4 separate regions of the Homo sapiens genome follow, and all the other regions are linked to region 1. The links come from fine-mapping of genetic effects on gene expression. A gene starts in region 1. Each other region holds a variant in brackets. All regions are shown on one strand. Distances are from middle to middle.

Region 1 (7,604 bases):
AGGGCTGGGGTTAACCATGACAATGGAAAATACAAGATGGTTATGCCAAGTACTGGATGAATGAACAGCTGCAAAGCCCCTAATACCTACAGCGCCCTAAGGACTAGATAACATGACTCTGTTGTGAACAGTGAAGTACCACCCTGTACATGTGAATACCAATGGGACTGACCTCTCAAAGTCTGGGCCCAGATTTGTGGCTTCAGAGCCATGCATATTTCCTCAGTGAGAGCTAAGAGCTGAGCTTTGTGGTCAGATGGTCCTGGGTTCTCGTTATCAAGTTTCTTGAGCAAGTCTACTATTCTGTGCCTCAGTTTTCCCACATGTAAAATGGGGAATAATAAGACACTGACTAGAAAAGGGAATGCAGGTAAAACACTGAACAGTGTGCCTGAGACACGGCAAGGACTCAAAAAATGACAGTGATCATTTTTATCATGTCAAGTGCCTAAAACAGCACCTGGTACAAAAAAAAACCCTCAATGAATGGTGGTCATTTTATTGGTCCTTTTCATGACCAAGAACAAGCTCACACACCAAGACTGCACATGGGCTGAAGGGCCAGTACAAATCTGAAGGGAGGCTAAAGAAGCTTCCCCCGTGACCACCAAGCAGGACTGACTAAATGGCACTACAGAGTGGTGAATTCAGAACTTGAACTCTGCCAACCGGTCAAACGCTGGGGTCCCACACTAGTATCAGTTATACTCTCTCTGCTATATTCCTGTAAAGTTTTCAGAAAGAAAAATTCTGTTGATGTCACAGAACTAGAAGCAACGGACTGGGGTAGTCAAACAGACACCATCTTAAGGACAAGATTGGCATCAAATCCATGAATCCAATAAGCATTTTAAAATGCCAGGAGCTGTGTGATCAGATGAAGAGGCCTTCCCTGACTATGAACTGGGGAGGAAGTATGTAAGCCCCATACAGACAACCTGGAGATGGCCTGGACACTAAAAGGTTTTCATTTGCAACTGGGTCTTAGGTCCCTCTTCCTCCTAAAATCAAGGGGGAGGTGGAAGCTTTTTAAATGAGGTTTTTTTTTTTTTTCCTGGCATAATGCAAAAGGCATGGACAGTGGGTCAGACAGACTTAAGTTCCAATTCAGATGTGCCACTTAGTGGTTGACTGTTTTTTGTCTTCTTTTTGAGATGGAGTTTCGCTCTCGTTGCCCAGGCTGGAGTGCAATAGTGAGATCTCTGCTCACCGCAACCTCTGCCTCCGGGGTTCAAGCAATTCTCCCACCTCAGCCTCCCGAGTAGCTGGGATTACAGGCATGTGCTCCCATGCCCGGCTACTTTTTATTTTTATTTTTTTGTATTTTTAGTCATGGAGACATGGAGACAAGGTTTCTCCATGTTGGTCAGGCTGGTCTCGAACTCCTGACCTCAGGTGATTCGCCCACCTCGGCCTCCCAAAGTGCTGGGATTACAGGCATGAGCCACCGCGCCCGGCAGTGGTTGACTGTTTTTAAAGCGAGTCATTTATCCTGTCCCTGAATGATACGATAACATATGTTATTAAAGGAGAAAACGCAGGTCAAACAGACTGTACATATGGTTCGTTCCCGCTGCTATCAGGGAAGCAGGTCTGGCCACAGATGGGGCATAGAACGAGGCCAGTGGTCAGCATCTCGACTCAGGCTTTCAGGGGTCAGAGCTCCCGGCTATTGGACACAGGGGGCAACGCACAGGCCTCCCCCCGACAGCCAGCTGCGCGGTGGCGCCCCCTCCTACCGAGCAGCTTGCTGGTCTGGATGTCGATGGGCACGTGCTGATGGTCCTGGCGGGAAACACGGTGAGGAGGGGGGCGTGAGCGCGGAGAGAGGACGTACCACTCGCGCGCTCATTTCAACGTCCCAACCACCACCCTGCAGGGCCAGAACGGGGCCAGAGCGATGGGCTGGGTTGAGCCGCTTCCGGAGGGAGACCGGAGACACAGGTTAGGGGTCCGCGGCCAGTCCCCAGCACACCCAGCTCCTGTCCCCACACCTCCATCTTTCCTCCACTTCCGCTTCAGGCTGGAGACTGTGGCCCGCCCCGCCCTACCACCAATCCAGTGGCGTTGTGGCCGAGCCTCCGTTTAGACACAAACGGGCATCCTTCGGCCACGTCGCCGCCTTCCGTACAGCCAATCAGGGTTTACGCTCCACTCAGGCCTCAAGCCCCGCCCACCCCAGGCTCCGAATGGCTGAGCTCGGGAGGGGCGGGAGAATGGAGACAGCCAATTGGAGACGCGAGGCGGGCTCAGGGCAGGGGACGGGAGGGGGTGCGCTGCAGCGGCCGTGGGATTGCGACAGGCGGCGCTCGAGAGCCCAGCCTGGCAGCCGCTTCCCCTGGCGGGCACTGGGTCTTCTCCACGCAGATTGAGACGTCTGCTGGCGGGGTCCTAGCGCCGATCTGGGAGGCCGTTGCAAATACCTTCTTCCCTCCTTGCGTCGCTTTACCATCCAGAGCAGTGTGCAGGTCTCTTGTGGCACTTGTCATGCTTTGCCTCCTCATTCAGTTTCTCTAATAGACATGGTTGAGCACCTGCAACGTGTTGGGCGATTAGGGCAGGGAAGGGGAAGGAAGAGAGTCGGTGAGACGTCCCAAAGAGAACACCTACATTGAGTCTAAACGAAGAGCTGAAGATAGCTGGGTGATGTGGGAAGAGGAGTTTTAGGTGGAGGAGACTACACAGACAAAGCTTAGGTGGCCACAAACTGCAAGAGGGGTGCAAGCAACAACAGGCAGGCAGGACGGGCAACGTAATTTGTGAGGTCCAGTGCAAAATGGAAATGCACAGCTGCTTGTTACAAAATGATGAAGAATTTCAAGATGAAGTCGGCTCCGCGGGCAGGCCAACCTCTATACCGTAGATGGTTTGAGGCAGCGAGTGGCTAGAGGAGAGGCTGTAAGGGTGGAAAGGCCATATCAAAGGGAGACTTATTAAGGAACTTGGACTTCATCCCTTCAGACAGAGGAATCACAGAAGGGGTTTGAGGCAGGGAGGAACCTGTACAGATAGGCTGCTGGGATGATGGATGCATGGGAGATAAGACTGGGGACAAGGAGGCTGGAAGGAGGTTGTTATCGAGGGATTATAGCCTGAGCTGGGACACAAGATATGAGGAGGAAGGGGAAGGGCTGGATCTGAGGAATATTTAGGAGGAAAATGTATAGGACTTGGCAATTGATTGGCTGTTTGGGTGGAGGAGAGAGACACTAAGGATGACACCTAGGTGATTAGGTGGGAACCACCACCTGAGACAGGGATGCAGGATGCTGAGCAGGTGTTGGGGAGGAGGGGGTCTAGCTTTGAACCTAGTCTGGCAATGCTGGGAGACCCCCAGATGGAAAGTGTGCAGAAGGCACTTGGGTCTATAATTTTGGAGTTCGAGGGAGTTGTCGGGGCTGGAGATACAGCTTGGAGAGTCACAAGCTGGCTAATCTGTGGTCCGAGTGGTGGCTGAAGCTAAGGGAGAGTCTGAGATTGGCCAAGAAGTGGGTAGAGTAAGGAGGGAGGGTAGGCTGAGGCCAGATCCCCCAGGATCTCACAGCGCTGGGTATGCCTTTTCTTTTTTTTTTTTTTTTTTTTTTTTTTTTGAGACGGAGTCACGCTCTGTCGCCCGGGCTGGAGTGCAGTGACACGATCTCGGCTCACTGCAAGCTCTGCCTCCTGGGTTCACGCCATTCTCCTGCCTCAGCCTCCCCAGTAGCTGGGACTACAGGCGCCCGCCACCACGCCCGGCTAATTTTTTTGTATTTTTAGTAGAGACGAGGTCTCACCGTGTTAGCCAGGATGGTCTCGATTTCCTGACCTCGTGATTCTCCCGCTTCAGCCTCCTAAAGTGCTGGGATTACAGGCGTGAGCCACCGCGCCCGGCCCTGGGTATGCCATTTCTAAATATTCCTTCCCCAGCTCCTGTTCACCACAGCACAACACTTGAGGCTTAGTAAATTTTTGATTGAAATGCATAGTGTGATACAGCAGCAGGAAGACCTAGATTCTGCCCAGTGAGGTCTTGGACCATTTCTATAACCTATCTGATAGCCACAGTTTCCCCACATGGAGATAACAGCTATCCTATCTCAGGGTATTTCTGTTTAGAGGCTTAAATAAACACACTAGTAACTCATGACAGTTTACAACATACTGTGGCTGTATTTCTCATGCTTTGTAAACTCTCCCTATATGAAATATCATATATGGGCCAGGCGCGGTGGCTCACGCCTGTAATCCCAGCACTTTTGGGAGGCTGAGACAGGCGGATCACCTAAGGTCAGGAATTCGAGACCAGCCTGATCAACATGGTGAAATCCCATCTCTGAAAAAAACAAAAAACACGCTGGGCACGGTGGCTCACGCCTGTAATCTCGGCACTTTGGGATGCTGAGGCGGGTGGATCACGAGGTCAGGAGTTTGAGACCAGCCTGATCAACATGGTGAAACCCTGTCTCTACTAAAAATACAAAAATTAGCTGGGCGTGGTGGCGTACGCCTGTAATCCCAGCTACTCAGGAAGCTGAGGCAGGAGAACTGCTTGAACCCGGGAGGCGGAGGTTGCAGTGAGCCGATATTGCGCCACCGCACTCCAGCCTGGGCGACAGAGTGAGACTCCATCTCAAAAACAAAACAAAACAAAAAACAAACAAACAAACAAAAACAAAAACCATCCCGGCGTGGTGGTGCATGCCTGCAGTCCCAGCTACTCAGCTACTCGGGAGGCTGCGGCGGAAGAATCACCTGAACTTGGGAGGCGGAGGTTGCAATGAGCCCAGATTGCGCCACTGCACTCCAGCCTGGGCAACAGAGTGAGACTCCATCTCAAAATATATATATATGTCATATATGATCATTATTATTATAGAACGGATTGAAAAACTGCTCTGAAAATGGCTCATAGAGCTGAATTAAGGGCCTTTTCAGGGATCTTTCATGGGAATTTGGCTCCCATCTGAGTCAGCCTGACTCAGACTGTAGGAATTGCTCAGGCTCCTCCATGATTAAACACACACTTAACTGGGCCCCAACTATGTGCTCGGGGCTGTCTGGGACATCTCAAGAGCAAGGCACTGCCCTGCCCTCAAGGTGTATCTATCTCTCTTCCTTGAACCAACAGGCTGGGCAGAACAGGACAGGGTGGGTCTGGAAGACCCAGCCCAGGTGAGTTGATGGAAGCAGGGACCACCAGCACTTCAGCCCCACCCACAGCTCCCCAAGGTGACTCACGTGGAGCAGAAGGATGTTTGAGAACAGTTCTGCCCAGCTACTGACTCCAGGGAGGCTGTCCCAAAGCCAGAGGCTCTGGGAGAGAACCTGCCTCTGCTGACTGCAGAGGCTCTGGGGGAGAGCCTGCCAAAGGCACATGCTTCTGTGTTCCCAAAGAGTGTAGGAGCATGGGCCTTTGGCGGGTTTCTGCACTTTTCCAAGGCCACAGGGAACTTCAGGGTCTGTGGGTAGATAAGCACATAATTGGTCTGGCATCCAGGGCATCGACTCTATCTCCTTCAGGAGACTTTAGTCATCGGGGCTCCCAGCAGCTAGAAGGAGGCAGAGAGAGGTATGGTAGGTTTCTGACCAGGAATCTCTCAGTTCTCTGCTGATTTAGCAGATGGGACCCTGGGAGAGGGGCAGCACATGTAGAGAGGTGAGGAGGATATACCAGGGCTGCACCAGCTTTGGACAAGGAAGCACAGAGCCCCGAGGCACCGTGTAGGCAGCCTACCTTGCCATCCATTATTGTTGTTGTTAGCTTGCTTATTACGTGATAAACATGCCCACGTGCCAGTGTAGATCTAAATGTTTTACAAGCCTTATCTAATGTGATTCTTCTAACAACCTTATAATGTGGGTACCATCATTAACCAGATTTTAAAGGCAAGGAAGCCAAAGATTAATTACGTAACATGTTGAAAATCATCCAGTGGGCCAGGTGCGGTGGCTCACGTCTGTAATCCCAACACTTTAGAAGGCCAAGGTGGGTGGATCACAAGGTCAAGAGATCGAGACCATCCTGGCTAACACGGTGAAACCCCGTCTCTACTAAAAACACAAAAAATTAGCTGGGTGTGGTGGCACGTGCCTGTAGTCCCAGCTACTCAGGAGGCTGAGGCAGGACAATCACTTGAACCCAGGAGGCGGAGGTTGCAGTGAGCCGAGATCGCGCCACTGCACTCCAGCCTGGGTGACAGAGAAAGACTCCGTCTCAAAAAAAAAGAAAAGAAAAGAAAATCATACAGATCATACAGTGGGCCAGGCGCGGTGGCTCACACATGGAACTCAACACTTTGGGAGGCCGAGGCGGGTGGATCACCTGAGGTCAGAAGTTTGAGACCAGCCTGGCCAACAAGGTGAAACCCCAACTACTAAAAATACAAAATTAGCTGGGCGTGGTGGCACATGCCTGTAATCCCAGCTACTCGGGAGGCTGAGGCAGAAGAATCCCTTGAACCTGGGAGGCAGAGGTTGCAATGAGCCAAGATTGTGCTACTGCGCTCCAGCCTGGGAAACAGAGAAAGACTCAAAAAAAAAAAAAAAAGGAAAATCATACAGTGGGTAGTTGATGAGGCTGGGATTCAAACCCAGGCCTGTTGGGCTACCCAGCCTGCATTCTTCTTCTCTGTGTGATGTGCCTTTGCTTCTCCTGCACCCCTGCCTACCCCTTTGGCTCAGCCACAACAGCTTCAGGTCTCTTCCTCCCTTGGGCCTGATTCCTATTTTCTCCCCAGTTGTTGTGCCAGACACTCAGAACTCCCACCCCTGCAGGCCCTGCCCCTTTCCAAAGTTCATTCTTACCACACCCCATTCTGGGAAAGGGAGCCCATTACTTATCCTCCTGCAATATCCATAAAAGAAGGCTTACTTTCAACATTCAAATAACTCATTTATTTTATCTGCTATATTTTTATTACTTTATGGTCTGTGTGTTTGCTCACAGCCACACTGACTATGGGGTGTGGTGTGTGTGCCTGTGTGTGTGTGGTGTATCTGCCTGCTAGGCTGGAAGCTCTGGAAACATAGCAGCCTTGGGCCTCTTGCTGCCCGGAGTGTAACCACTGTGTTGCTTTTTTCTTTCTTTCTTTCTTTCCTTTTTTTTTTTTGAGACAGAATCTCGCTCTGTCACCCAGGCTGGAGTGCAGTGGTGTGATCTCAGCCCACTGCAACCTCCTCCTCTTGGGTTCAAGCGATTCTCCTACCTCAGCCTCCCAAATAACTGGGATTACAGGCACGTGCCACCATGCCTGGCTAATTTTTGTATTTTCAGTAGAGATGGGGTTTCACCATGTTGGCCAGGGTGGTCTTGAACTCCTGACCTCGTGATCTGCCCACCTTGGCCTCCCAAAGTGCTGGGATTACAGGCGTGAGCCACCGTGCCCGGCATGTTGCGTTTTTCAGTCTGTCTCCCCACCTAGTCTGCGAGTACCTGTGGGCTGGGAAGCCAAAGCAGACTTGTTCATCTCTATAACCCCAGCATCCGGTGTGACTCTTGACATTGAGTGTCAGGAGCTTAATGGATGCTTGTAATGAAGGAAAGCCATATGCAGGAAGGCATTTGATGTTGGTGGTAGTTGTGATAAGTGGGGACCATGATTGCTTTGTCTTGGGACAAGAGGTTC
Region 2 (5,000 bases), 37 kb before region 1:
AAAATGCATATGTAAACATGTAGATAGATAAGGATGAAATGAATGGAGCAAAATGTAAACAATTGATGAATCTGGGTAAAGGGCACATGGGAGTTCTTTGTACTATTTTTGACATTTTTTTATAAGTTTGAAATTTATCAAAATAAAAAGTTACCAAAAAACCAACTATATAGCCTCCATCTGAAGGAGAGAGATTCATTTAGATGTTGATTCTTTCTTTCTTTCTTTTTTTTTTTTTTTGAGACAGAGTTTCGCTCTGTTGCCCAGGCTGGAGTGCAGTGGTGCCATCTCGGCTCACTGCAAGCTCCGCCTCCCAGGTTCACGCCATTCTCCTGCCTTAGCCTCCCAAGTAGCTGGGACTACAGGTGCCCACCACCACACATGGCAAATTTTTTTTTTGTATTTTTTTTTTAGTAGAGACAGGGTTTCACCATGTTAGCCAGGGTGGTCTTGATCTCCTGACCCCGTGATCGGCTCACCTCAGCCTCCCAAAGTGCTGGGATTACAGGCATAAGCCACCGTGCCCGGCCAGATGTTGATTCTTTCAAAATGGTCCTCTTAGGAGGCACTGTACTTTTCAACACTTTATCAGGATTGGGTGAAAACATGAAAGACAAGCTCATCAGCTCTGTGGATGACACACAGCTAAAAGAGAGAATTAATGTTTCGGGTGACAGGCTAAGGATTTAATAAGATCTTAGCAGGATGGAAACATTGGCCGAAATCGAACACAGTTTAACATGATGTATGCTCCATCAGTGTTAAATTGAGTTGAGTGAGGTGAAATTTAAAAGAATTAAATAAGTTTTATACTTGTCACCAAAAGAGTTAATTCAGTAGGAATGAGGAAGACATGGTCTAAGAGTGACATATACTAAAAACAGTAAGTTTAGTTGCCTGCAACCTCAATATGCTGATATGATAGAGAAGCTACTATGGGCCGGGCATGGTGGCTCACACCTGTAATCCCAGCAATTTGGGAGGCTGAGGAGGGCAGATCACATGAGGCCAGGAGTTCGAGCCAGCCTGGCCAACATGATGAAACCTTGTCTCTACTAAAAATACTAAAATTAGCTTGGCGTGGTGGTGTAATCCCAGCTACTGGGAGGCTGAGGCACAGGCATTGCTTGAATCCGGGAGGCGGAGGTTGCAGTGAGCCGAGATTGTGACACTGCACTCTAGCCTGGGAGACAGAGTGAAACTCTAAACAAACAAACAAATAAAACTGCTGTGATCTGCGTCTGCTGTAAAAAATTATAGATTCTGAGCTGCATTAATAAAATACAGTCTTTAGAACAAGGGAGGTGATGGTCTTTCTTTATCCTGTGCCCTTTGGAATTAATCTTTAGGTCTGGGGCACTATTTATAAAGAAAGGCATTGCTAATGAAAAAGCCTATGGGATATATAAACAATAGTGAGATTTTGAAAGGAGAGCACTTGAGGAATAGGTGAAGGAATTAGGAATGTTTAACTCTCAGGGATTCCTTTTGGCTGCCTTCTAGACATTTGATTGGCATCTGAACTGTGGAGGAAGATTTACATATTCTCCATCAATTCACACAATGAAAAAAGGACAGAAGGAGGTGAATTACAGGGAAATAGTCTCTGGTTTAGTATGAGAAAGATTTTTCTAAACATTAAAACAGGGCCAGGCGCGGTGGCTCACGCCCGTAATCCCAGCATTTTGGGAGGCCGAGGAGGGCGGATCACGAGGTCAGGAGATCAAGACCATCCTGGCTAACACGGTGAAACCCCGTCTCTAATAAAAATACAAAAAATTAACCCGGCGTAGTGGTGGGCGCCTGTAGTCCCAGCTACTCCTGAGGCTGAGGCAGGAGAATGGCGTGAACCCGGGAGGCAGAGCTTGCAGTGAGCCGAGATGGCACCACTGCACTCCAGCCTGGGTGACAGAGCCAGACTCCATCTCAAAAAAAACAAAAACAAACAAACAAAAAAAAAACATTAAAACAG[C/T]CTGAAAATAGAAAGGTATTACCTAGTGAGGTAATAAGTTATCTGTGGCTGGAAGTATCCAAAGAAGGCTATTATGAGGGCTACTATAATAATAATTCTTGCAACAGGAAGGACCCTAGGTTAGGTAGACTGCTGGTCTGTTGAACTCTAAAGTTCTAGGTAATTACATGTCTATTTAGAAACAAAAACAAAAACAAAAACAAAAAAACACCTACCAGCCTCTCTTCTCTGTGGTCTTTATTATATAATGTTTACAGAAACTGCCCACACACCCACTGATTGTATAAAGCTTGGGACTGGACTGGGAGCTTCTTCATTTTGAATTCCTTGCTTCCCTACCCCATCTCTTTTCCAGCCTTCCATCCTGCCCCTTAGTTGCCTCTGTCCAGAACTTTCCATGTCTGCCTGCAGGATGGGACTTCTTGAGAGATCTGTAATATTGAAAATTCTGCCAGGCACAGTCGCTCATGCTTGTAATCCCAGTACTTTAGGAGGCTAAGGCGGGCGGATCACTTGACACAAGAAATTCGAGACCAGCCTGGCCAACATGATGAAACACCGTCTCTACTAAAAATACAAAAATTAGCTAGGCGTGGTAGCACGTGCTTATAATCCAGCTACTTGGGATGCTGAGGCACGAGAATTGCCTGAACCCAGGAGGTGGAGGTCAAAGTGAGCTGAGATTGTGCCACTGCACTCCAGCCTGGGCAACAGGGTGAGACTGTCTCAAAAAAAAAAAAAAAAAAAAAGAGGCCACATGCAGTGGTTCATGCCTGTAATCTCAGCACTTTGGGAAGCCAAGGTGGGCGGATCACTTGAGGTCAGGAGTTCGAGACCAGCCTGGCCAACATGGTGAAACCCCGTCTCTATAAAAAATACAGAAGTTAGCCAGGCATGGTGGCACGTGCCTGTAATCCCAGCTCCTTGGGTGACTGAGGCAGGAGAATCGCTTGAACCCGGGAGACAGAGGTTGCAGTGAGCCGAGATGGCGCCACTGCACTCCAGCCTGGGTGACAGAGCAAGACTCCATCTCAAAAACAAAAACAAAAACAGGACAAAAAACAAAAAAAAAAAAAAAAAAAGCTGGGTATTGTGCCAGTCTCCCTACTGAGGCTGACTCTAACCCATAGCTGACTGGCATTTGCTCTCAGAGCACAGTTTCTGCATTTGAGGAATTTCGCTGGAATCCCAGCACTCTTCTTAGTGTGGCAGAAGGCAAGGTGAAGGTGTGAGTTAGTGGAATATGTGGGTTCTAAACACCAAGCGGAGCAAACCCCCAAGGATGGACAGCACATCTCAAGAGCAAAGGAAGGTAGAAAACAGAGATCAGAGACAGCCTCTCTTTCTCTCCTGTAGCCTTTCCCCCCAGTTCTTTTCTGTTTTAATCACAGGAAGAGTGATTAGTCAGCCGAGGAAGGATGGGGGAAGAAAGCAGATGAGTTTTATCTGGCTGGGGTCTGCCCAAGCTGCAGCCATGTGACTACCTGGCTGACCTGGGGTCTCCATCATGTCCCTGCCTGTCCACAAGACGGATCAGGCTGCCCTTCTCTGCAGCACCCACCCCCGCCCCCATTCCAGGAGAGGGTTGCTAGGATAATTATAGCCTACTTGTTTCTCTCTCTCCCTCTCTCTTATTCCTGTAGGTCCTGGACATTTTTTACTTTCTCAGAGGACTGGGGAACTTCTTCAACACTGTAGTAAACTAGAATCTGGAAAGTTCCTTCCAGCAGAAATGAGGAGGTTAAATTCTCAGAAATGATTTCTATTTTTTACCCTTCTCTACCCACCTCCCTCCCAATGTTAACTGGGAACCTATTGCTTTGCCCTTCATTTCAACAACACAGAGCCTTTCCCCAAATATTCAGGCCTCTCTGTCATCCTTAAAACTGCTCCCCTCGACCTGCTGGGCTCAAGTGACTCACTCACCTCAGGCTCCTGAGTAGCTGAGACTACAGGCATGCACCACTTCTGGCTAATTTTTATATTTTTTGCAGAGACGGGGGTCTCATCATGTTGCCCAGTCTGGTCTCGAACTCCTGGGCTCAAGCTATCTGCCCACCTTGGCCTCCCAAAGTGCTGGGATTACAGGCATGAGCTACTGTGCCCAGCCTCGGGTATCTCATGCAGTATTGAAGGAAACAGACCTGGCTTTGAATCCTAGTTCTATCAGTTGCAAGCTCTGTGACCTTGGATAAGTGGCAAAATCTCTCAGAGGATCCATTATTCCACTTGTGAAATGGGAATAATTATACCCATTCACACAATTTTTGTAAAAATTCAACAAAATAATGCATGTAAAGCTCTTAGCCAATGACTGGCAAAGTAAGTGCTCAAAAGATGGCAACTACTGCTCCTAGGGCTCACCTTTGTTTGTGCTAAGTGGATGAAGCAAAAGGAGATGGCAGGGGTTAAGGGAAACACACCAGAAAGGAGGCTCACAGAGGAGATGCTGAAAGGGATGGATTTGGTTAATGTAGGACAGATGGCGGAGAAGGAGGAAGAAGACGGGGAGAAGGAAAGGGGAAGGAAAAGGCTCATTGGAGACTAGCCTGGCAGAGTAAGAGAGAAAGTTGGGATGCACAGAACAAGACAGAGCACGGGAAAGGGATGGACAAAGAGCAGATGGGAGAGGAAGACAGAATGACAAAGACGCGGAGGGCGGGGGAAACCCAGCTGGTGTGAAACAGACAAGAGGTGCTGGAGAAGACAGAAGAAAAAGAGAAAACCAAGGGGTGGGGGGCGGTGTCAAAATGAGACAGGGAAGCAGGGGCAGGACAGACAGACTGAGAGCGAGTTGGGAAAGCACAAGACGGACAGACAGATGGCAGGGACAAGAGGGTGCCCTGGGTTGCCTGCATTCTGCTGTGTTTACCAGCTAATTGAGTTAAATTGTTGTCAGAGATGTAATTAAAGGGTAGAGAGAGCTCTCTGGCAGGCCCGAAACAGATGGAGGGGGCTTTAATTGGTAATTAAATTCTTCCCTGGCAGCTGAGGAAGGAGCTTGTGCTTCAGTCTCACAAGGCCACGG
Region 3 (7,964 bases), 29 kb before region 1:
TGAATTTTCACTCAGTTTGTCAAGCATTCTCTGTTTTTTTGCCTTCAGCCCCACATATGCTGGTCTTTCTGCCAGGATCTTTGCTCTCCACCCTCCCTTCCACATCCTTGGACTAACTGCTACTTATCCTAAGTCCGCAAATTAGCACTCCTTTCCTTCTTTCCCCTCCCTCCCTTCCTTCCTTCCTTCCTTCCAGTTGAGTCTCACTCTCTTGCTACATGCTGGAAAGCAGTGGTACAAACACCACTCACTGCACCCTCCACCTCCCAGGCTAAAGCAATTCTCTTGCCTCAGCCTCCTGAGTAGCTGGGATTACAGGCACACGCCACCACACCCAGCTATTTATTTTATTTTATTTTATTTTATTGTAGAGATGGGGTTTTGCTATGTTGCCTAGGTTGGTCTCAAATCCCTGGGCTCAAGGGATCCGCCTGCCTCGGCCTCCCAAAATGCTGGGATTACAGGCATGAGCCACCATACCCGACCCTTCATTTCTTCAGGAGGCTTTGCCCCACCCCATCTTACCATCCCAACATCTGCCCTAGCCTGACATCCTGACATGCTATTTTTTTTATTATTATTTTTTAGAGATGAGGGTCTCGCTGTGTCGCCCAGGCTGGAGTGCAGTGGTGCAATCAAGGCTCACTGAAGCACCGTGACCTCCTCCCAGGCTCAAGCAATCCTCCCACCTCAGCCTCTCAAGTAGCTGGGACCACAGGCATGTGTTACCATACCCGGCTAATTTTTTAATTTTTTGTAGAGACAGGGTCTCACTATGTTGCCCAGGCTGGTCTCAAACTCCTGACTTCAAGCGATCCTCCTGCCTTGGCTTCCCAAAGTGTTGAGATTATAGGCATGAGCCACCATTGCAAATTTAACTGTCTGACTCCCTTAAAAGGCTATAAGATGCAAAAGCCAAGGATAGTGTCCATTTTGCTCATCTCCCCAACAGCTACTAAAGGACCTGGTGAGTAGGAGGTGCTGAATTAATTTTTATTGAATGAAGAAATAAACCCAGAACATTCAGGGTGAAGAAAGCAAACTCTGAAATCATCAGTGAAGTTATTATGCAGATGAGAGGCCTAGAAATGCAGCCAAGATTTAGGTTAGCTGTGGGAAAGAACTCTTTTTTTTTTTTTTTTTTTTTGGTCTTTCCCTATTTGCTAAGGGAAAATGAGGAAATCTCTTTTAGAAACAGAAAGAAGACAAAGTCTTATGACTGGTCAGCTGGTGGTAGCCTTCACCCTCTGCTGTGGGAGGTCAGGAGAGGGAGTGTGCTGGTTCCCAAACACCAGACCCCTCCCCAACGGGAGATTTTTAATAATCAGTATGTCTAGAGGCAGGGTAAGAAATTGTACTTTTTATTTTATTTTTTAAAATTATTTATTTATTTATGTATTTATTTTTTGAGACGGAGTCTCGCTCTGTCGCCCAGGCTGGGGTGCAGTGGCGCGATCTCAGCTCACTGCAGCCTCCACCTCCTGGTTTCACGCCATTATCCTGCCTCAGCCTCCCAGGTAGCTGGGACCACAGGCGTCCGCCACCACGCCCAGCTAATTTTTTGTATTTTTAGTAGAGATGGGGTTTCACCGTGTCAGCCAGGATGGTCTCGATCTCCTGACTTCATGATCTGCCCGCCTTGGCCTCCCAAAGTGCTGGGATTACAGGCGTAAGCCACCACGCCCAGCCTATTTTTATTTATTTATTTATTTTTTGAGACGGAGTCTCGCTCTGTCACCCAGGTTGGAGTGCAGTGGTGCAATCTTGGCTCACTGGGTTCACGCCATTCTTCTGCCTCAGCCTCCTGAGTAGCTGGGACTGCAGGCGCCCACCACCTTGCCCGCCTAATTTTTTTGTATTTTTAGTAGAGACGGGGTTTCACCGTGTTAGCCAGGATGGTCTCAATCTCCTGACCTCATGATCCACCTGCCTCGGCCTCCCAAAGTGCTGGGATTACAGGCGTGAGCCACCGCGCCTGGCCTAGAAATTGTACTTTTTAAATTGTCCCAGGTAATGACAATTCTGATGATTGGCAGATAGAAATCACTAGATTAAATGCCAGGTTTCTTTCAGTTACAAACATTTGTTTCTCCTCTCCTTTTCTTTTGCTTGCTGGCATTTTTTCCCACCAGCTAGAAGATATCAGCCCAGCTGATTCTACTAGGCTTGAAAGATAGCAAGCTTGGGAATATTGAAATCTTCACAGAACCTTGGCAAAAATAGCAGCGAAACATGCTTGCGGGGTGGGCCCTTCCACTACATGCAGAATGAGAGCTCCATGTTCACCCCTACCGTCCCCATCATAAAGACCAGACTGAAATACGATTTTAAGCCTGGTTCAGTAGCCCCATTCTACAAAACGGTACTGAAATACAAAAAATGTCATGGTCAGGAACTGCTGGAGCTATGGCTTGAGCCCTGCATTTGAACACTGGCCTCCACTTCCTGGCTAGCATCCTCCCCACCACATAAATTGATGAAGCTTATTTGGCTCCAGCTCTCCCTGGATTCATTCATTCATTCAGCATTCATTCTCCTGCAGTATCTGAATGGATTCAAATGTCACTTCATTTACCTTCA[C/A]CCTGCAGGGCAGAGGCACAGTTGTGGGGAGGTGGGTGACATTCCCTCCCCTAAAGCCATCCTCCTGCCACCCACTGAGAGATCCGCTAGTGAGAGACTGCTCTGGAGGGTGCCACTACCTGCCGAGGCCACCAGAAGGCCTTGGGACCTGCAGGGTTAAGCAACTCCAGAGGTGCTTCCTGGATCATCAAAGTTGACTTGCCCACACAGACAAGGCTCGATTAGCTAAATACAGTCATAAAACCTAAGCCTCATCATTGTTCGTCATTCTTCCTCCTGCATCACCTCTTGTGGCCTGTTACTTAGACTCACAGGATTGAGAGCTGGCACAAATCTCAGACTTCAAGTCCTGGGTTTTGGCAAAGCTTGATGTGTGTGAGGGGAGTGGGGAACCCTTGTTTCAACCAACCAAAGCAGTTCTGTTTATGTGTGTTTTTTTGTTTTGTTGTTTTGTTTTGTTTTGTTTTGTTTTTCAGACAGAGTCTCACACTGTCGCCCGGACTAGAGTGCAATGGCATGATCTCCGCTCACTGCCACCTCTGCCTCCTGGGTTCAAGCGATTCTCCTGTCTCAGCCTCCTGAGTAGCTGGGATTACAGGCATGCGCCACCATGCCCGGCTAATTTTTGTATTTTTAGTAGAGATGGGGTTTCACCATGTTGGCCAGGCTAGTCTCGAGCTGCTGACCTCAGGGGATTCGCCCACCTCGGTTTCCCAAAGGCATGAGCCACTGTGACCAGCCTGTTTATGTGTTTTTATATAACATGTTAGAGTTCTGGCCAGTGTCGTGCTGCTAAAAGTTTACTGGCTGGCTCTCACTTGGAGTGCTGAAGCCCTGATTTGTAGCCTTTGCTTATTTCTGTGGTGTAAATATTTCCACAAAAGCCCATTTCAAGCCACCAACTGGAAATCCCAGTGCAAAGTTGGGAAATGCACATAATTGGCTTTTAGGATCCAGTGCAAGCCAGCTTCAGCATGGCACTGGTTCTGGTCTTTTTTTTTTTTTTTTTTTAAGACAAAGTCTTGCTCTGTCACCCAGGCTGGAGGGCAGTGGCGTGATCTCAGTTCACTGCAACCTCTGCCTCCCGAACTCAAGCCATCCTTCTGCCTCAGCCTCCCGAGTAACTGGGACTACAGGCATACAACACCATGCCCAGCTAATTTTTGTATTTTTAGTACAGACAACGTTTCACCATGTTGCCCAGGCTAGTGTTGAACTCCTGAGCTCAAGTGATCCTCCAACCTCAGCCTCCCAAAGTGCTGGGGTTACTGGCATGAGCCACCGTTGCCCAGCCTGGTCCTTCTTTTTAAAAAGAAGTGTGGGCCAGGCATGGTGGCTCACACCTGTAATCTCAGCATTTTGGGAGGCTGAGGCAGGTGGATCACCTGAGGTCAGGAGTTTGAGACCAGGCTGGCCAACATGGTGAAACCCCGTCTCTACTAAAAATACATTTAAAAAATTAGCCAGGTGTGGTGGTGGGTGCCTGTAATCCCAGCTACTTGGGAGGCTGAGGCAGGAAAATGGCTTGAACCTGGGAGGCGGAGGTTGCAGTAAGCCGAGATTGCGCTACTGCACTCCAGCCTGGGCGATGGAGCAAGACTGTCTCAAAAAAAAAAAAAAAGTGTGAAGACTTTTCTATTACTACCTTTTAAAGATGAGGCAGCTGAGACCTAGAAAGATTAATTGTTGCTGAGAGCCACACAGCTTACTAGGACCAGATTCAAAAGTCCCTGATCCCCGAACCACCAGATGCCACACTCCACAATCCAACTCAGCTGGACTGTCATAGGCAGGGAGGAGAGGAGACAGGCATCACCACAGCAGCACCCAGGCAGGAGCGCAGGGGGCAATCGACAGTGGCCAATGTCAAAATAAGTGGCCAAAGGGTCTCGCAGCCAACCTTTGCTGGGCAAAACCAAACCAAACCCAAACAAACCCCTCAAACTTGAAGAGTCCTATTTTGACCCAACCCTGTTCATGTCCTCAGGGAGTAAATTATTTCCCATTCTGACTTGGATGAAACAAGAAGCATCCTCACCCCTCTTCCCCCAAGTCTCTCTCCCAAACCTACGAAAAGTCCTTGGGCAATGCACTGTATGTGGGTTGAGGGGGTGGGGGAGGAAGTGGGAAAGAATAACCCCTTTTAGACAAGTCCAGGAATAATTATTTCAGCAGCTGTTGTATTTTCTTCCCGGGTAAGGAGCAAGAAGGAAGCGTGGTGCAGTGCTGAGCGGAGGCCTGGGTCTTCAAGAGCCCTGGATTCTCGCTCTGGCTCTTCTACTTATTTGGGTGGATCTCTTCCGCTCTCTGGACATCAACTTCCCTATCTGTACAATGAAAGTCTAGAACTTTCCAGCATCTTATTTATTTATTTATTGAGACAGAGTTTCGCTCTTGTTGCTCAGGCTGGAGTGCAATGGCACAATCTTGGCTCACTGCAACCTCCCCTTCCTGGGTTCAAGCCATTCTCCTGCCTCAGCCTTCCGAGTAGCTGGAATTACAGGAGCCCGCTACCAAGCCCGGCTAATTTTTTGTATTTTTAGTAGAGATAGGGTTTCACTATGTTCGCCAGGCTGGTCTTGAACTCCTGACCTCAGGCAATCCACCCGCCTCGGCCTCCCAAAGTGTTGGGATTACAGGCTTGAGCCACCGTGCCCGGCCCAGCATCTCTTTCTTTTAAAATGCCATGAATTGCCGGGCGCAGTGGCTCATGCCTGTAATCCCAGTACTTTGGGAGGCCGAGGTGGGCGGATCATGAGGTCAGGAGATCGAGACCATCCTGGCTAACATGGTGAAACCCTGTCTCTACTAAAAAAAAATACAAAAAATGAGCCGGGCATGGTGGCAGGTGCCTGTAGTCCCAGCTACTCTGGAGGCTGAGGCAGGAGAATGGCATGAACCCGGGAGGCAGAGCTTGCAGTGAGCCGAGATCGCGCCACTGCACTCCAGCCTGGGTGACAGTGTGAGACTCCATCTCAAAAATAAATAAATAAATAAATAAATAAATAAATTAAATAAAATGCCATGAATCACCGTGGGGGGAAATGGTAGGGAGACCACCCAGTAACGCAATAATGGTTCTCCCCCAACCCTTGCATCCCACTCTTTCACCAGCTTCAACAAAGGCCCTTTCCTTGCACCTCTGAAGATGCTCCTCACTCCATAGACACCCCACAAAGGCCCCCTCCCTCCAGTTTCTCTGACATCTCCCAGGGCTGACTGGGGCTGCCCCAGCCTGGTATCTGGTCTCCTGTGTCCTAGTCATTCCTTGTGTCCGTGTTTCTTCCTTAGGAGCTGGGGTCACCGTGCCAAAGAGGAGGAATGAGAAGTGGGGGTCATCTGTTTTCCATAGCCTCTGCCCATCTACCGAGTCTGGTTTGCCAGAAGAGGGGAAGGAGGATAGGGGTGGGTGGTAAAAGAACCCTGTGACCCGTCCCCCAAACCTGTCCTGCAGCTTCTCACCCGACTGTCTTCTCCTCCAGAAGGAAAATGGGTCACGCTCCACAAGAGCCTGTTATCGCCAACCTGGCCCTGCTGCTGCCTGATAGAGCCCAGCCCTCCCCCGCCAGATCTCATTAAGGGGTCGCTGCTTATGCTTCCCAGCCGCCCCCCATCCATCTTTGGCCATGGATGACAGACTGGGCCTGGAGGCTGATGTCCGGCAGGTGACAGGGTTAATGGCAGAAGAGGGCAGAGGGCAGAGGCCAGCCAACTCACAGTGGCGGGAGGGCAGTCTGGGAGGCCCTGGGTCCACTCCAGTTGGGCAGCCTCACAAATTACAGCACCTGGGGGAGGGATGAGCCCCAGACCCCTCCATCCCCAGGGAAGCAAGGTGGGCAGTATCAGCCACCTTGGGAGCAGATGGTGGGAGGAGAGAATGTTAGCCTGGGAAGAAGAGGAATAAAGACACTTAGAAGGGGAAGGAGAGCTGAAAAGAAGAGGGAGAAATTTCTATATTTGTAGGCTCAGTGAAAACATTGCTTCTTGGATGCCTGGATGCTCTTTGGCAAGAAACACACATTTTGCAGACATGTATGAAGTCAGGTGAGTGTTTTGAAGATGGGTGCCCAGGACCCATTCTGTTTTCCCTCCCAGTTGCCTAGTTCAGCACCTGGCACAGTAGTTAGGAGTAAGGTTCCAGAGTCAAATAATATGAGTCCAAGTCCTTTTCAGGTCCTTTCTGTGGGACACAGGTAAATTACTTAACCTCTCTGAGCTTGATGTTCTCCATGTGTGCAATGTAGCTTTGGTATTACGCAGCTTCTGTGAGGAGAAATGACGCGGCACATGGGAAACACAGCACCTGGTCCTGGGCTGTGCTAGGATTAGCTCCTCTTGGAAGTAGCGGGCTCATTGCTTTAATTACTGCAATCACCTTTGCTGCCTCTCTCCCATCCCCAAGCTTTTCCCAAGCCGTCTGCCTGGGACCTCCCTCGTTTGACCTCATACATGCCTGTGATCACCTCCCGGCCTGCTCGGCTCACTCCCAGGGAGCCACTGAATGCTGCTTTGGGGGCAGCCGCCCCCATCATGGCTCCCAGAGGGGAGGCCCCATGGTGACAAGGGTTAGTCCCTCTGGGCCTTTGAAGCCCAGGGAGGGAAGGGGGAGGGGCTGCCCTGTGCTCCTGACCTGGGGGATGAGGCTCACCCCGCCACCATGGGAGGAGAGCTGAGAAACAATGGGCAGTGGAAGCCCGGCTCCCACGCCGGCCAGCTGGCAGTCAGGAGAGGGGGTGGGGTAAGGGTGGGAGTGTCCCCTCCTCAGAGCAAGCAGAAAGCTTCAAGAGGCTGGGTCTCCCCAAAGGGACCCTGAATGTCAAAGGTATCCTATGGAGACAAGGAGAGAAATTTTTGCAATGTGGCTTCCTGGACAGAGGTTGTCCAGAGGCCCCAAAGATGGGGTGCAGAGAATGCCCCCAGTTCCAGGGACCCCCTCAAGTACACCCCGATCTCAGGGTGGGCAAAGAAGCCAACTAGCACTACTCTGCCCTCCTTCCCAAGCCTGGATGGAGATCCCCCGCTCTGGGGGTGCTGATCGCCTCCATTAGGTCCTCAATCTTGCAAGGATAATGCATGGCCCAGGCTGGGCTGGGGGAGGAGGCCCCTCTAGCAGAGAAGCCAGGAGGCAGGATGCAGCGGTGCCTGAGCAGAATACCAAGCAGCCACCTGGTTGCCCTGGGCCTCAGGCTGCCTCTGGTGCCAGCAAATCTGGGCAAGGTGGGGGTCTGTCCCCTGGCCACCTCTATGCCTTTATGCCTAGCTCTACCAACTCCCTACTGTGGCTGAACTCAGTGAGGCTTCTCCGTGTGGTGTCAGGGTCCTGGGTAGCCTGAAACAGCCATGTCCACCCCACTCAACTAGACCAGAGCCCTGCTCATCTCAAA
Region 4 (7,964 bases), 490 kb before region 1:
TATGATTCAAAGTTTTTCACAATTAGGTGCCCATTTACAATGGAGTGAATCTTTATGTTTCCCCCAAATTCATATATTAAATCCTAGCCCCCAAGGTGATGGTATAGGATGGGACCTTCGGGAAGGGATTAGGTCCTAATGGTAGAGACCTCGTGAATGGGATTAGTGCCCTCATAAAAGAGGTGGTCCCAGAGAGTTAGCTTGCTCTTCCCACCATGTGAGGACACAGCAAGAAGGCACTACCTATGAAGAAGCAGGCCTTTACCAGCCACCAAATCTACCAGCACCTTGATCTTGGACTTCCCAGCCTTCAGAATTGTAAGAAATAAATTTCTGCTGTTTATAAGCCACCTAGTCTATGGTATTTTGTTACAGCAGCTGGAGCAGAGTAAGACACCACTGAACTATCTAAGATCACATAGTGTAGAAGCCAGATGTTTAGACTGTAAATCCTATCTCTTTTTCATTATTTCCCCCTTACCTGCTCTAGTGACATGCCCTTATTAGAAAGAATTTATTTAACAATTTTTTTTTGGCCAGGCACAGTGGCTCACGCCTGTAATCCCAGCACTTTGGGAGGTTGAAAAGGGTGGATCACCTGAAGCCAGGAGTTTGAGACCAGCCTGGCCAACATGGTGAAACCCTGTCTCTACTGAATTTTTTTTTTTTTTTTTTTTTTTTGGGACTGCTACATGCCAGAGTTTGCTGAGTACTGGAGGATAAAGTTGTGAATATGACAAACATTGTTCCTGCCTTTATGGAAACACTTTCTAATGGGGGAGACAGACAAATAAAAAGAAAGAAAATAGGCAAATAAAATAATTGCAAATTGCTAGGAAATAAATAATTTATAAACTGCTAGGAAAGAAAGATAAGAGAAAATAAGGCAGTTCTATGACTTTTTTTTTTCCTCAAGGCTGAATCTTGCTGTTACCCAGGCTGTAGTGCAATAGTGCGATCTTGGCTCACTGCAACCTCTGCCTCCTGGGCTCAAGAGATTCTCCTGCCTCAGTCTCCCAAGTAGCTGGGATTACAGGTGTGCACCACCACACCTGGCTAATTTTTTGTAGTTTTAGTAGAGACAGGGTTTCACTATGTTGGCCAGGCTGGTCTCAAACTCCTGACCTCATGATCTGCCTGCCTCGGCCTCCCAAAGTGCTGGGATTACAGGTGTGAGCCACCACACCTGGCTCAGTTCTATAATATTTTAATTAGGCTTCCAAACTCTCATCTCTCCCATTGCTACTTTTCTGGTTCCTGAAGACGATCACTTCTTAAGGACCCACCTTCTAATAGCTCCAATAAGGAAAACCATAGATGATACTTTGTAAATGCAAATAATTCCCTGAATGCACCTCTATTTTATTCATCTAAATATATAGTAAACAATTCAAGCTAGATTTGGACATTTAGAATCAAAGATGTAATCTAGTGATCCCTCATTTGGACCACAAATGAGATAGATCTTTACATTAATGTATGACGGATTTAGGTTAGACACAATGAAGAACTTTGCAGCAAAAGTTCAGTGGAACAGGTACCTGAGGGAGTGTATCAGTCAACTTTACTAAAATAATGCTGCATAACAACTAATCTAAAATCTCAGAAATTTATAACATTTATTTTTTGCTCACAGGTTTGTGGATTGGCTGCAGTGATTCTGTTCAGGTTGTGAATCTTGTTCAGGTCTGCTCCATGTAACTTCTCATTCTGGGACTCAGGCCGAAGTGACAAGGGCATGCTCTTCTCGTGGCAAAGGGTAGAGGTGCAAGAGACCAAGCTTAACCAAGCAAGTAGAGTTAAAGCCTCTGTTTACATTCCATTGGCTAAAACAAGTCACATGGCTAGACCCATCATCAATGGAGTGGGGAAGTTTGCTCCCCCAACGGAGGGAAATAGAGAAGAATGAATGTTTGCTGAGCAATAATACACTCCACCACAGGGAGGTTATGGAGTTTCCTTCACAAGTGGTCTTTACAAATAGAAGAGGTTGTTATCTCTCTGGGTTCCTCTGGGTACCATATTACCTGAAGTATAGCAAAGGAAGACCAGAAGACATGATTTCTTAAAGATGCCTGTTTTGGTACAAGGGCAATGTAATTTGTGTTTGATATCTGGTTGCCACTGAATCCCCTTTTCCTTTTCCACCAGAGCTGTGCCATGGGGGTGATTTCCAGGCCAAGTCTTAATATCAGAGTCTCTGCATGATTGTATACAAGTGACAGTCACACAGCAAACATAAATACAGATGGCTCTGATACCATCGGGGAACAGTATTCCTGCCATCGGGCCAGTTTTGTCTGCTGCTACAGTGCAGTTAACTCTGGAATGAAATTGGAAAACTAACTGATGGTCAGAGAGGACTGGAAAGATTTTCATTTGTAACTGAGACAGGCAGGGCTCAGCAAAAGGTGATGCAAGAGCAGATTTTACCATAGGCTCAGTAAATCCAGCTAACAAACATGCATGCATTGTATTGAATCACTTAAGGATCTAAATATTTGAATGTATTCAAATGGAAAGACGTGATTGTGCACTCACACCCTCAGCAGTTTTTGACTCCAAGGCTTCATATTCTGTACCCTTTGCACCCTTGGTGATAACCTTTCCTTCTTCTACCTCAGTGTGCTCATTCTCCCTCTTCTCCCTCCCCAATATCTGTTATCAGGAACTCCTTAGGTCCTACTGAAAGTATAGTCCCCAGACCAGCAGTAGCTGGTCTCAGGTGCATCACCTGAGAGCCTGTTAGAAATGCAAATTTTGGGGTGCATTCCCCAGACTTGCTGAATCAGAATCTCTGGGTTTGAGGTGGGGAACAGTTGTCTCAGGAAATTGTGTTTTCATAAGCTCTTCAGATGAGAAGTTAAGCACATACACAGAAGTTTGAGAACTAGGGCAATTCTGACTCAGTAGGTCTGGGTGAAAGCCATGACCTGCGTTTCTAACAAGCTTGCAGATGATACTGATGCTGCTGTCTGTGGACCACACTTTGAGTAGCGCTGCTTTAGAACTCAATTACATACACATGAAATGATGGCCAACAGTTAAAAGCCTTACTGGTCCTAAGTGGATAGGATCAAAGTCTTAGTGAATAAAATGAGCCACTAATGGTGGAATTTTACGCAACAGCCACCAGGTTTTTTTTAAAGTATGTTTTGAGCCGGGCATGGTGGTTCACACCTGTAATCCCAGAACTTTGGGAGGTCGAGGCAGGCGGATCACTAAAGGCCAGGAGTTTGAGACCAGCCTGGCCAACATGGCGAAACCCCATCTCTACTAAAAATACAAAAATTAACTGGGTGTGGTAGAGTGTGCCTGTAATCCCTGCTACTCAGGAGGCTGAGGCAGAAGAATTGCTTGAAGCCAGAGGTGGAGGTTGCAGTGAGCCGAGATTGCGTCACTGTACTCCAGCCTGGGCAACAGAGCAAAACCCTGTCTCAAAAAAAAAAAAAAAAAAAAAGGAAATGTATATTTTGGTCAGAGGGTGGGCCTGGAGCCTCTGAAGCCACACTGTGTGTGATTACCTTCCATCCCACATACAGAATCCATCCTGTCAATGGATGATTAAAGAATGAATGTAGCACGGGGGGAAAGCACTGGGCTGGGAGTGAGGAAATCTGGGTTCCAGTTCTTGCGCTGTCACTGAGATTGTGCACGTGGTTGGGTCCCTTACCTCTCTCATACTCATCTATATAACTGAAAAAATGAACTGATGAGAGATACACAATCTCCAGCATCCCTGCCCCACTGTGCCCACTTTTTCGCCTTGGTTTTTCAAAAATGTTTGTGGGTAAATAGTAGGTGTATACACTTATGAGGCACATGAGATATTTTGGTACAGGCATGCAATGTGTAAGAATTATATCATGGAAAATGGGTATCCATCCCCTCAAGCATTTATCCTTTGTGTTACAAACAATACAATTATACTCTTAGTTGTTTCAAAATGTACAATTAAAGTATTATTGACCATAGTCCCCCTGTTGTACTATCAAATATTAGGTCCTATTCGTTTTTTCTATTTTTTTTTTTTTTGTGCCCATTAACCACCCTACCTCCCCCTCAGGCCCCCCACTACCCAGCCTCTGGTAACCATCCTTCCACTATCTCCAGGAGTTCAATTGTTTTCTTAGATCCCACAAATAAGTGAGAATATGCGATGTTTGTCATTTTCCATCTCTTTAAAAATTATACAAGGTTATGATTACCTTAGCAAAGATTTCCTTTCCAGACGAGTAAGCGAGTCTCAAAAAATGGTAAACCAAAGCTGCAGAATTGAGGGCCCATAGAGTTGAATGCTGTGAACCATGAGTAGAGTTGCGCCCGACTCTAACCATCCCACCACACCCGCCTTAGTGCCTACTCAGGGTCGGGGTCTCCACTTCCCACTTCCTAACTGGGTGACTTGGGGCAAATTACTCTCTCTCCTGGAACTGTGGTTTTCTATTCCATAAAATGAAGATGAAAATAACACCTACCTAATAGGGTTGTTGTGAGGTTTAAAATCATTAATACATGTCAAGTGCTCAGGACAGTGTCTGGCACGAGAAGAGCATTCGATAAATGTCAGGGACTATTATTACTCCAGGAGGAGGAGGGGCCGCCCTCATCAGCCCCCGCCACAGACTGTTGAAATCTCAAGCCCAAGCTGCAGGTCTTCCTCTGTCCTGTAGGTGGCGCCTCCCCGCGTTGAGCGTGCCACCTGCGTCCTGGAGCGCTTCGAGAAAGCGGAAAGAAGTAAGTTTTCACATCTCTGCTCAGTTCAGGAT[T/G]GCTAGAGAGGAATCTTCTGCAGTCACCTGAAGCCTGTGCCCAGGACAACCAGGTTTTGGGATCCGATTTCCTTCCTGGAGTGGCTTTAAATCCATTTCTCGCTGCACCCCACCCCCATCACCTGGGCGCCTCCCCTGCACCTGCAACCCAGAAAGACTCCTCCGAGGATTGCACTCCCAGCACCTGAGGTAGGCAGTTGAGTGGGAGTTTCTTTGCTGCTCGGTTAAAATGACAAGTTGGTACACGAGTGCTTAATGAAAGATGCTGGAAACCTCCTTGGAGATCAGAAAAATCGCCTCTCCGAGCTGACAGCCAGGCCATCTGCATTCCCGCATTCCTATTAATTCCTTAACAATAAACGACAGGAGCGCCTAGAGGGTTAACAGCTTAATTTAATCTCTGAGATTCCTTCCTGGAGCATTGAGAATTAGAAAGGCATTTACACAACGTAATCTGCACACCTGATTTTTCCTCACTTGATGTGTCTGGGACTAGTCACACCCATTTCTGACACATCTCCAGACAGAGGCTCTGCCTCTCTGGCTGATGACTGCATAGTCGCCACAGGTTGCTGTGGACTCTGAACCACGTGACTGGACTCTTAGTGTCACAAGATCTGGCTTCTTAGCAGCTGCCCCCATAGTTGCTTTACATTATGTTCCCAGGGCCTTTCAGGGACAGGAAGGTCCCCAAATAGAGATAGAAAGGTGGTGCCCAGTTGGGAGTGAATTTCCTTCCCTTGTGGGAAGCAAGGCAAAAATGGGAAGAGGTACGTGGTAGCAGCAACCAGCTTGGAGAGCTGTGAGGTCAGATTTTGAGAGTCCCTGGCAGATTGAGAACTATGCTTTGGAAATGCTTGACTCTAATGCCAGTCCTCTCATTTTATGGGTAAGGAAACTGAGACTTGGAAATGTCTAATAAATTTGTTTAGGCCCTATGTCCAGGTAATGTCAAAGCCCCAAAGTAGAATTCAGGTCTTTTTACTCCTGGACAAATATTTGTTTCACGATAAGGTTGGCAAATAGATTTCATCTTGCATGGTAACTCCCATCATAGGCTGGTAGGGGCTGCCCAGGGCCCTATGGGCTTCTCAGGGTATGTCCAGGCATAGCAGGAAAAGCCTCAGTGACCATTTGAAGATGTCTTCCAGGAACAGGGAAGGAGCAAAGGTGCCAGATATTTGCTATCCCTGCATTTTTCATGCTGTTTCCTTCAGGTTAAAGCATTTAAAGGCTCTATTAAAATGGAAATGTTAGCTGGGAGGGGTAATGCATTAAGCCATTATCTGTCATTAACACCTTGGGTAAAATACATTGAAGATTAGTTTGCTAGTTGCCCAGCAGGTCCCTGGAGGAATGACAGTTTTGACCCAGATAGGGGCCAGGGAAATGACACACAGCCCTGCCCATAGGGGTGCAATATTTGGAGGCCCACTGCAGATAGGAGTTAGGTTGAACACACTGGATATCTAGTGGAAAGAACTCTGAGGGACCAAGTTAGGGAAAGAAGTGACCCTGAAGACATTTTTGCACAATTCTCTCTTGGTTTACCTTGTATAACACAGTTTCTACCAGTCACATTGCTTGATCCTTCGTCTCTCCACCTGTAAAATAAAATTAAAATTTTAAATACCAATGCTTGGCTCCTACCCCAAGCCAATTAAATCAGAATGTCCAGGAATGGGACCCTGCTCTCCCTTTCCCCCAACACTTCTCTATAGAACATTCTGGTCTTGGTATTAGTCATCGTACTGAAACAGGAAATTTTCCTTGACCCCTTCATGGACCTTGCAACAGGGGTGCCTCAGTTACTTAGCCCCCAGCTCTCAATCCCTCACAGGAGGGGGAGCACACAAGTGAGCAGGTGCAGGAGCCAGAGTGACTGCTTTTGGGTGCTGGCAGGAGCAAAACTGTGCAGCCCTGCAGCAGCATCTGTGGGGGTACCCGCAACCTCTGAAGACCCAGAGGGCATGTGTTACAGTGTGCTCTTTTAGCTTTTCTGTCCATGAATGGCTTAAGTGTTAACAGCTCAGTGGAGGGTCAGTGTGACAACCTTTTGCACCCATACCTGAGTCCTTGCAACCAAGGTTGCATGAAAAAATTGAAGGGTGATGAATGCGGAGAATTTTATTACTGATGAAAGTGGCTCCCAGCAGGATGGGGAGCTGGAAGGGGGATGGAGTGGGAAGGTGATCTTCCCATGGAGTCCAGCAGTCCCCTGCTGTACACTTCTCCTAAGTCCCACCATCAAGCCATTCCTCTGAAGTCAAGCTGTTTCTTTCCAATGTCTGGCTACTTCTTCTCTTCTCTCCTTCTTTGCCATCTGCCAGTTGGGCCAGGGGATTTAATGGGTACAGGATGAGGGGTGAGACAGGTCATGGTGATTTTGGAAAAGGCAACATTTGAGCAAGAAAATAGGAATGCATGCTCTCACTTTGGACCGCGGTTCTAGGCTTGAGGGTGGGGCTTCGCCAGGGACCCTGCCCTTTTCTGCCGAGAATTTCCCTGCTTCCTGCCCCTACCAATACCATCCTGTCCTTATCCACACACTAACATATTTTATGTACTTACAATGATATAGATTCTGTATCATTTTATATTTTGAATGTGTCAAAATGCAGAAGCAGGTAACAAAAAACTAAAAGTGTCAATAAAAGTTCTTACTCTCTCACAAAATAAGAAATGTAGAGGTCTTATTTTGGTTCATCAGCTGAAAAATGCTATGACTGACCAGGCTTCCTTCATCCTTTTGCTTTTCTACCTTCAGTGTTGGCTCTTGGTCTCTAGGCTTGCATGGTTGCCATGGTTGAAGAAATCATGTGCTCATACAACTATATTCATAGACATGAATGAAAGAGTAGGAGCCTCATGCATACTCGTCTTTTTAACTAGAATAAAAATGTCCTCAGACGTCTCCCAGTAGTCTTCCCCTTCCTCTCCTTGGCCAGAACTGTGTCATGTGGCCTAATATAATCTGAATGTTTGTGTCCCTTCAAAATTCATAAATTGAAATCTAATCCCCAATGCAATATTTTAAGAGGTAGGGCCTTTAGGAGGCGATTAAGTCATGATGGTGGAGCTTTGTACCTTTGTAAAAGAGGCCCAAGGGAGCTTGTTCACTCCTTCCATCATGTGAAGAAGCAGCAAGAATGCACCACCTATGAAGCTGAGAACACGCCTTCATCTGAATCTGCT

Direction of the effects. Positions count from the first base shown, and alleles are read on the strand shown. Sizes are in standard deviations (SD) of each study's normalised expression. Not every link is listed here.
For the expression in monocytes after triphosphate RNA of the gene that starts at base 2,034 in region 1, T is the low allele of the variant in region 2 and C is the other (large effect, 0.86 SD a copy in Kim-Hellmuth 2017).
In carriers of allele A in region 3, the expression in activated CD8 T cells of the gene that starts at base 2,034 in region 1 tends to be higher than with C alone (moderate effect, 0.59 SD a copy in Schmiedel 2018).

What was found. PIP is the estimated chance that this variant, and not a neighbour inherited with it, causes the effect. A credible set is the group of variants that fine-mapping cannot tell apart.
Region 2: its variant is the best candidate, but not a certain one, in a credible set for the expression of CDK5RAP3 in monocytes after triphosphate RNA (Kim-Hellmuth 2017, PIP 0.62).
Region 3: its variant is the best candidate, but not a certain one, in a credible set for the expression of CDK5RAP3 in activated CD8 T cells (Schmiedel 2018, PIP 0.85).
Region 4: its variant is the best candidate, but not a certain one, in a credible set for the expression of CDK5RAP3 in whole blood (TOPMed, PIP 0.57).

The regions. Positions count from the first base shown.
Region 1 is chr17:47,965,543-47,973,146 of GRCh38, reverse strand. It overlaps CDK5RAP3 (CDK5 regulatory subunit associated protein 3), which reads right to left and starts at 2,034. Exons shown (of 14, transcript NM_176096.3): 1 at 1,995-2,034; 2 at 1,740-1,785. The coding sequence starts at 2,000. RefSeq lists an enhancer at 1,045-1,672 and a silencer at 2,094-2,383.
Region 2 is chr17:48,003,633-48,008,632 of GRCh38, reverse strand. No RefSeq gene overlaps it. Among named protein-coding and RNA genes, the nearest start is that of MIR10226, 27 kb to the left of the region's middle. RefSeq lists a silencer at 4,956-5,000 and an enhancer at 4,991-5,000. The variant C/T (reference allele first, on the strand shown) is at 1,973.
Region 3 is chr17:47,994,611-48,002,574 of GRCh38, reverse strand. No RefSeq gene overlaps it. Among named protein-coding and RNA genes, the nearest start is that of CDK5RAP3, 27 kb to the right of the region's middle. RefSeq lists an enhancer at 6,966-7,564. The variant C/A (reference allele first, on the strand shown) is at 2,581.
Region 4 is chr17:48,454,147-48,462,110 of GRCh38, reverse strand. It overlaps LOC101927166 (a long non-coding RNA gene), which reads right to left. Exons shown (of 6, transcript NR_110804.1): 3 at 7,857-7,964; 4 at 6,838-7,092; 5 at 6,321-6,373. Among named protein-coding and RNA genes, the nearest start is that of SKAP1, 28 kb to the right of the region's middle. The variant T/G (reference allele first, on the strand shown) is at 4,770.